Regions from separate parts of the Homo sapiens genome. Here region 2 is linked to region 1. A link means that fine-mapping ties the variant in region 1 to the expression of a gene that starts in the linked region. Tissue or cell type: tibial artery. Region 1 holds a variant in brackets; the other region holds the start of a gene. All regions are shown on one strand. Distances are between the middles of the regions. Region 1 overlaps ZC3H3 (zinc finger CCCH-type containing 3). Region 2 holds the start of GSDMD (gasdermin D).

The links. PIP is the estimated chance that this variant, and not a neighbour inherited with it, causes the effect. A credible set is the group of variants that fine-mapping cannot tell apart.
Region 2: it holds the start of GSDMD, and the variant in region 1 is the best candidate, but not a certain one, in a credible set for the expression of GSDMD in tibial artery (GTEx, PIP 0.56).

Annotation. Positions count from the first base shown.
Region 1 is chr8:143,487,113-143,491,485 of GRCh38, reverse strand. The region is part of intron 4 of ZC3H3 (zinc finger CCCH-type containing 3); the gene reads left to right. Among named protein-coding and RNA genes, the nearest start is that of SNORD149, 17 kb to the left of the region's middle. RefSeq lists enhancers at 2,632-3,168, 3,169-3,706. The variant G/C (reference allele first, on the strand shown) is at 1,946.
Region 2 is chr8:143,556,101-143,560,473 of GRCh38, reverse strand. GSDMD (gasdermin D) reads right to left here and starts at 2,128. Exons shown (of 11, transcript NM_024736.7): 1 at 2,023-2,128; 2 at 922-1,142; 3 at 505-697. The coding sequence starts at 1,138. LOC100310756 (a long non-coding RNA gene) reads left to right here and starts at 2,203. Exons shown (of 1, transcript NR_147504.1): 1 at 2,203-3,655. RefSeq lists an enhancer at 1,672-2,313.

The DNA.
Region 1 (4,373 bases):
CATACGGGTGTGAGCCTCGCCCAGGCCCGGCTGTGAATGGCTGTCCCTGTCCCTGTTATGGGCAAGCCCTTGGGACAGGATGCAGGAGCTCCCTGGTGAGATGCTGCTGCCACCTTGGCGGAACCGCAGGCCACAGCGTGGTTCCGTGTGGGCCGGCAGTGGCATCGCAGGGACAGGCTGCAGGGAGTGTCTGGTGACAAATCTGGAGGGAGCCTTCCTTCAGTTTGCACAAGGACCTTCGGGGAGGGAGCTCAAGGGCCCCCCGGGGGTTCCTGTGGGATCCGTGGAATTCCCCTCAGGCCGGGGAGGGCGGAGCCCCCTGTGCCTGGGCCCTCCTGCCCCATCTGCCCAGCCGTGGATATGTGTGTGTCTGCCAGTTGGTGCCTGGGCTCCCTGGAGGGAGGGGCAAGCATGGACATTCCTGGAAACTGAAAAACCACCCCTGACAGGAAGAAATAAAATGTCCTTGTCACCCGGCGCTACCTGGGTGCCGCCGTTTTAAATACCACTTTACCTTGGTTTTAGAGGTGGTCGTAAAGTATCATTTACATAGTCAATATTTATTTGTTTATTTATTTTGAGACGGAGTCTTGCTTTGTCACCTAGGCTGGAGTGCAATCTCAGCTCACTGCAGGCTCTGCCTCTTGGGCTCAAGCAATTCTCCCACTTCAGCCTCCGGAGTAGCTGGGATTACAGGCACCTACCACCACTCATGGCTAATTTTTGTATTTTTAGTAGAGACAGGGTTTCACCATGTTGGCCAGGCTGGTTTCAAACTCCTGACCTCAAGTGATCCGCCTGCCTTGGCCTCCCAAAGTGCTGGGATTACAGGCATGAGCCACTGCACCCGGCCATCAGTATCTTATTTAACTTCTCGAATATATCAATCCTCCAGCCAGATCTCACCCCAAAACATGATTAACCTCTCAAGGCTGGGCTGAGTATCTGGCAGATGGACAAGGGTGGCACATCTGCCTACCTTGTCCCAGGGCCCCACTGGGGAGGAGGGTGACAGCAGGTTCTCTGGGCTGGGCCCGGGTGGTCTCTGGGCTGGGCCTGGGTGGTCACTGCAGTTGGCATGTGGACAGTGCCTGACAGAGGACTGAGGCCCCCACAGGGGACAGGAGTGTTCAGGAGAGCTGGGCCTGTTGGGGGTGGGAGTCCTTAGCCTGGCTGCCCCCAACCCTGGCCTCCCTACCTCCTTTCTATTGTATTGCTATGTGGGCCCTCAGAGATGGGACCGTGGGTGAGACTCCTGCAGGGTCCAGGCCCCGGGGGGCCTCCCAGCTGCTGAGCACTGTGCAGCCCCACCCACCTGCTGGGGAGGCTCCCACCTTCCTCATGGCCCCCTTCACCCCCGCCGCCCCTGCCCCATCCCCAGTACCTGCCAGGGCCCTGTGTGTCAGGTGCTTGCTGGGCGTGGTTTAGGAACCACGGGTGTCTAAGGGTGTTTCCCTGGAACCCTGTGGCCTGGAGTGTGGGTGTGGGCTGCAGTTCCAGAGACCCGTGGCTCAGGGACAGGCCCAGGGACCGGCCCAGGGACCACAGTGGGTAGGATGCACCCACCACTTTCCTGACTTTCCTGCAAGTCAGCAAGGGTCCCGCTGCCCCGTCCACTCCCCAGAGTCAGGCGCGGTTTAATTTGCGGTTGGACGTCTGCTAAGATTGCGTCCACTTCCCAAGTCAGCACTTAATTGGCAAGGCGCTTGATTTAACAGCGTGGGAGCCTCCACCGGAAAAATGGCTTGAATAAATCACCGCCTGACGCCAGAAAATAGATATAATCTCAGCATTAACTACATTAATAGTAGCAGGAGCCGAATTAAGAAAGCCATAAAGCATAGGCGGGCGGGCATAAATTATGGCCCAGCTCAGTACCCTCAGTGCTCTGGCTTGCCTGGGGCGGTCCTGGGGCGGGACAGGGGCAAGGCGCCCCCTTGCCTGC[G/C]GAGGCTGCTTCCAGCCAGCTCCTCCCCTGGCCCCTCTCCCCTGGCCAGGGCGGTGGGCGGGGCCAGGCGGTGGTGGGCGGGGCTCCGTGGCCCAGCCGCGGTGGGAGGGCGCATCCCCCCAAAGGTTGGCTGAGGGGCCCCAGCTCCCTCCTTTCCATTGGCTGCTTGTCCTCCAGGACTCCCCCACCCCACCCTACCCAGCTTCTTGGAACCAGGCCCTGGCTGAGCCCTTCCCACCTGGGGCGTCCCCTGCCCAGTGGGTACTAGCAGTCATGGAGAGTGGCAGAGCAAGGATAGGATTCAGTTAGGGCATAGGTACCAGACCCAGCTCCAACCTTTCTCTGGTGTCTGCAGCCTGGAAGGCTCCCTGCAGGCAATGACATTTGGCCAGGTAGACACAAGCTGATCCCCACCCAGGCCCCACCTCACTCCTCTCATTGCTGGTCTTAGGCCCTTCCCAGAGAAGCGCCTTCATCTGGATGAACAGTCCTGGGGGTCAGCGCTGCCACTGGCTTGGGGGACAGAGGGGGCATGACTGCTGGCCCTTCCGGGCCTCGTCAGCGTCAGCAGCCACGGGCAGAAACATGGACAGCGGATCTGAGGAGGGTGCCATCCAGGCTTAACTTTAATTCTTGGTCAAGTTCAACATGGTTTGTGTTCCCTATTCGCTTGTCTCCAGCTGGCTTGTTTCTTATGGATTCATGGAACTCCAAGTGTTCAGGGGGAGTCGCCTTTTTGTCATTTTCCTCGCTTTGAATTTCGTGAGGATGTTTGCAGAAGTTTTTACTTTTCTGTGCACTTAAATCTGCCAGTCTCTTGAGATTTCATGTATTGATGTGCTGAGAACAGCCTTTCCTACCTAAGATGGCATGAGTTCTGGAAGCTTCCCTCTGGCTCTTCCCACTCATGTCTACCCCATGAGCACCTGCTTTTCTGCTCTCTGCCTACCTTGATTGGCTTTGCCTGTTCCTGAACTTCGTGGTGATGGGGCCGTGTAGCGGGTGCTGTTCTGTGTCTGAGCTTCGTGGTGATGGGGCCGTGTAGCGGGTGCTGTTCTGTGTCTGAGCTTCGTGGTGATGGGGTCGTGGAGCGGGTGCTGTTCTGTGTGTGAGCTTCGTGGTGATGGGGCCGTGTAGCGGGTGCTGTTCTGTGTGTGAGCTTCGTGGTGATGGGGCCGTGTAGCGGGTGCTGTTCTGTGTGTGAGCTTCGTGGTGATGGGGCCGTGTAGCGGGTGCTGTTCTGTGTCTGAGCTTCGTGGTGATGGGGCCGTGTAGCGGGTGCTGTTCTGTGTCTGAGCTTCGTGGTGATGGGGCTGTGTAGCGGGTGCTGTTCTGTGTGTGAGCTTCGTGGTGATGGGGTCGTGGAGCGGGTGCTGTTCTGTGTGTGAGCTTCGTGGTGATGGGGTCGTGGAGCGGGTGCTGTTCTGTGTGTGAGCTTCGTGGTGATGGGGCCGTGTAGCGGGTGCTGTTCTGTGTGTGAGCTTCGTGGTGATGGGGCCGTGTAGCGGGTGCTGTTCTGTGTCTGAGCTTCGTGGTGATGGGGCCGTGTAGCGGGTGCTGTTCTGTGTCTGAGCTTCGTGGTGATGGGGCTGTGTAGCGGGTGCTGTTCTGTGTGTGAGCTTCGTGGTGATGGGGTCGTGGAGCGGGTGCTGTTCTGTGTGTGAGCTTCGTGGTGATGGGGCCGTGGAGCGGGTGCTGTTCTGTGTCTGAGCTTCGTGGTGATGGGGCCGTGTAGCGGGTGCTGTTCTGTGTCTGAGCTTCGTGGTGATGGGGCCGTGTAGCGGGTGCTGTTCTGTGTCTGAGCTTCGTGGTGATGGGGCAGTGTAGCGGGTGCTGTTCTGTGTGTGAGCTTCGTGGTGATGGGGTCGTGTAGCGGGTGCTGTTCTGTGTGTGAGCTTCGTGGTGGTGGGGTCGTGTAGCGGGTGCTGTTCTGTGTCTGAGCTTCGTGGTGGTGGGGCCGTGTAGCGGGTGCTGTTCTGTGTGTGAGCTTCGTGGTGATGGGGCCGTGTAGCGGGTGCTGTTCTGTGTGTGAGCTTCGTGGTGATGGGGCCGTGTAGCGGGTGCTGTTCTGTGTCTGAGCTTCGTGGTGGTGGGGCCGTGTAGCGGGTGCTGTTCTGTGTGTGAGCTTCGTGGTGGTGGGGCCGTGTAGCGGGTGCTGTTCTGTGTGTGAGCTTCGTGGTGATGGGGCCGTGTAGCGGGTGCTGTTCTGTGTGTGAGCTTCGTGGTGATGGGGCCGTGTAGCGGGTGCTGTTGTGTGTCTGAGCTTCGTGGTGGTGGGGCCGTGTAGCGGGTGCTGTTCTGTGTGTGAGCTTCGTGGTGGTGGGGCCGTGTAGCGGGTGCTGTTCTGTGTGTGAGCTTCGTGGTGGTGGGGCCGTGTAGCGGGTGCTGTTCTGTGTCTGAGCTTCGTGGTGGTGGGGCCGTGTAGCGG
Region 2 (4,373 bases), 69 kb before region 1:
CCGGCAGCCTCTCCGTGTGCTCCCCACGGGGACGGGACCCCATGAGGAAAGGTGGACTCGGGGACTCCAAGTCCAGACTCGAGGTGCGGCCCCCTCACCTGGGCCCCCGTGTTCACACCACCCCTTGTCCTCACAGCAGCCTGGGGCTCAGTCCGGTCCTTAGGATCCAGTCCTGGCAGCGGAGGCCCCAGATGACCCCTGCAGCTTCCTTCCTGCAAGCTGGTTCCGGCCACAGCGCTCTTTTGCCTCTGGGACTTTCCTGATGCCCCAAGGTTGTGACCTTCCCAAGAGCAAGGCTGGGACCTGGCACAGTGGCTCACCCCTGTAATCCCAGCACTTTGGGAGGCCGAGGCAGGAGGACTGCTTGAGGCCAGGAGTTCAAGACCACCCTGGCCGAGATAGCAAAACCTCACCTCAAAAAATAATTTAAATAAATAAATAAATAAAAGCAGGGTTGCTTGGGGTAGGTGGGGCCCTGCCCTGCCCTGCCCTCTTCGGGCCCACCTCTCATGGAGCAGAGTCTGCCAGGTGTTAGGGTCCACACTCAGCGAGTACACATTCATTGAGGTGCTGGAGCTGTCAGACACCGCGGCCCCGCCTGCGATCTTTGCCTGTCCTGGGGCTGCCAGCTCCACGCTGCCCTGTATCTGCCCATCCATGGCATCGTAGAAGTGGAAGCTCCTGCCACGCTGCACGTCTAAAGCAAGGCCAGACCTGAGGCTGTGCCCAGCGCCCCGCCTCTCCCCCGCCCCCACCAGCCCTGTCCCAGCCCCAGGGCAGAGGGACCTTTGGAAAGGCCCCGGCCTCTGGAAGAGAGGCCCAGAGCTAGAGGCTGCAGAGCCCAGTGGATGGTTGGCCCCAGCCCGCTCCCCTCTCCCATCCAGCCTCCCTGGGGCTCTGCCTCAGCACCACATCAGGCACCTGGTTCCGCGGCATCCGGCTCCAGGATGTCCTTGATAGACAGGTTGACACACTTATAACGGGGTTTCCAGAACCATGAGCTTGAGGGCTTCCTAACCACCAGGCAGTAGGGCTGGAAGCCAGTGGAGCTCTGCAGGCTGGTCACAGGGATGAACTCCCCACCATGGTCCAGCTCCTGGACCACTCTCCGGACTACCCGCTCAAAGGCCGACCCCATGCTCCTGAGGAGGGGAAATGGGTCAGGCATTGTGCTCTCGGGGCGGGCGGGAGGGAGTGGGAGAAGGGTCAGTACTTGGATGTCTCCCATGATGGGGGACTCCTTCCCTCCAGAACAGCCCTGCCCAGCTCATCCTGGGATGCTCCCACTAGCAGAAAGCTTCTGTCCCCGGCCCTCCCCAACACAGAATTACAGTGTTCTCCCTGTTGTCTACGGTACCATGAGCACCTCCAGCCAGGGACAGTGAGGCCTGACGCCCAGACCTGCTCTAACACAGAGGGCTCTGTCCACTAGAATGGCTGCCTCTGGCTGGGAGGAAACAAGCTGTCACCTCCTGAGCGTGGTGCAGGGACCCACTGCAAAACCCAGCCAGAGTGTCACCAGGGACCCACTGCAAAACCCAGCCAGAGTGTCGCCCCACCCCAGCTGCGTCCTCCAGGGCCTTCTCTGTGCCTGGAGCTCCATGAGCCACCTGTCCAAGGCTGAGGCTTTGGGGGTCAGAGGCCATAGCGGGCCTCCGCTGGGATAGGGGGCACCTGGGCCACTGTGGAGGGGCTGCAGCTGCCCCAGGAAGCCTCTGAGTGCTGGGTCTGCTGAAAGTGGAGGCTGGGCCCAGAAGGCAGCTGGGGGCGGGAACAGCACCGGCCCGGGAACCTGGATGGCGGACCTGGGAGTCAAGCCCAAGCCCAGGTCCAAAGGCCGGGCCCCTGGGCTGGCCAGGGGCAGCCTTTCCCGAAGCCTGGAGCTTCCGCCCCCGTGTGCGGCGCGGGGCCTTCTGGGCGAACGCTGGGGCAGCAGGGCCAGCATCCCCCACCCGGGAGCCAGCGGCCGGCCCCACTCGGGAGCTCCAGCCAGGCCGGGGGAGGGGGCGGGGCGCAGCTCACCGTGACCGTCGGCGCCCCGAGGGTGGCGCGTCTGGCGCGTCTGCTCTCCCTGGGAGCCGTCCGGCGAGCAGGAGCTGGAGGTGCCCAGAGCTAAAAGTGAAACTGCAACCTGACGCAGGGCCCGCCCAGGACGCCCTCCCGGAACCGTCCCGGAGAGCCCGCCCCGGCCCCCTTCCTGCCCCCTCTTCCCGCCAGCCCGCCTGGAGCACCAGCCTCGCGCGTCCGGAGGAACCTTGGCTTGGCGCCCCATCCTGGTAGCCTCAAACTTCATAGCACTTTGTGGTTTTTCTTAAAACTCTGAGCCTGTGCCCGGGCGGATCACCTGAGGTCGGGAGTTCAAGACCAGACTGACCAACATGGTGAAACCCCGTCTCTACTAAAAATACAAAATTAGCCCGGCGTGGTGGCGCATGCCTGTGATCCCAGCTACCTGGGAGGCTGAGGCAAGAGAATCGCTTGAACCTGGGAGGTGTAGGTTGCAGTGAGCCGAGATCATGCCATTGTACTCCAGCCTGGGCGACAGAGTGAGACTCCGTCTCAAAAACAAACAAGCAAACAAACAACTTTGGGCCTGTGCCGAAGGGTCTGGGCAGATCTTCCAAAGATGTACAAAATGTAGAAATTGCCCTCAAGCAAATGCAAAGATGCTCAACACCCTTAGTCATCAAGGAAATGCAAATGGAATCCACAGAGAGATACTGCACACTGACAAAGATGGTCGTATTACTAAAGGTGAATAACCAGCGCGGGGGGCACGTGGAGTCACTGGAACATTTGTGCAATGCTGGTGGGAATGTCAACCCGTGCGGCCCTCTGGAATAAGCCTGGCAGCTCCTCCAAGAGTTACCGTGTGACCCAGCAATTCCACTCCTAGCTCCACCCACAGGAATTGAAAGCAAAGACGCAAACAGATGCCTGTGCACCAAAGTTCACGGCAGCATCCTTCGCCATAGTGGCAGCATCCGTCGTCACAGCGGCATCATCCTTCATCATAGCGGCAGCATCCGTCGTCACAGCGGCAGCATCCTTCGCCACAGCGGCAGCAGCTGTCGTCACAGCGGCATCATCCTTCGCCATAGCGGCAGCATCCTTCGCCAAAGCGGCAGCATCCTTCACCATAGCGGCAGCATCCTTCGCCATAGCGGCAGCATCCTTCGCCATAGCGGCAAGGTGGAAACCCTGTCCATCCACTGAGGCGTGCATAGACTAAACATGGCCAGTCCAGGCACTGGAATCCAGGCCGTAGAACGGCGCCCACGGTCAAAAGGAATGAGACCCTGATGCACTGGGCGACACAGACGGGCGACACAGACTTGGAGACATCATGCTAAGTGAAAAGCCAGGCACACGGAGCGGACGGCGTGATCCTGCTCACGTGATGTGTCCCGAATGGGCACGTCCAGAGGGAAGAAGGGAGATGGCGCTGCCGGTGCCCGGGACGGGGGTTGGGAGCGACGGTTGCTGGTTTGGGGTTTCTTTCTGGGGTGAGGAAGTGTTTTGATATTGGCCGTTGGTGATGTTTGCATACCTCTGAATATGCTAAGACCCACAGAATTGCACACTTTAAATGGATGAATTGTATGGTATGGGAATTACACAATTATGTCTCATTAAAGCAGTTATTTTAAAAATCTAGTGCCCAGTAGCAACACCTAGTCTCGGCACAGGCTCCCTCAGTGCCCTACTGACCTAAGTCATGGTGGGCCCAGGGCCATGGGCCCACCCCTGCACACGGTAGTCCTCCCACCCGGCCCTCCCAGCCGCTCCGCGGTTGTGGATGGGGCTACTTGGGCTTCGGCCCCACTCCTAGGCCTGACCACAGTGGGGACACAGTGGTGCCCTGCGGGTCCCTGCTGGTGCTGTCTCCTGGCTGTTTTGTGTATTTTTTGTTGTTTGTTTTGTTTTGTGTGAGGCAAGATCTCTCTGTCGCCCAGGCTGGAGTGCAGTGGCACAATCACCACTCACTGCAGCCTCGACCTCCTGGGCTCAAGTGATCCCCTCCTGTCAGTCTCCTGAGTAGCTGGGACTACAGGTGCTCAGCACCACACCTGGCAAAGTTTTCGTTTTTGTTTTGAGACTGAGTCTTGCTCTGTCACCAGGATGGAGTGCAGTGGCGTGATCTCAGCTCATTGCAACCTCTGCCTCCCAGGTTCAAGCGATTCTCCTGCCTCAGCCTCCCGAGTAGTTGGGACTACAGGCATGTACCACCACACCCGGCTAATTTTGTGTCTGTGTGTGAGAGACGGAGTGTTGCTCTTTTTTGCCCAGACTGGAGTGCAATGGCACAACCTCAGCTCATTGCAATCTCTGCCTCCCGGGCTCAAGCAATTCTCCTGTCTCACCCTCCCGAG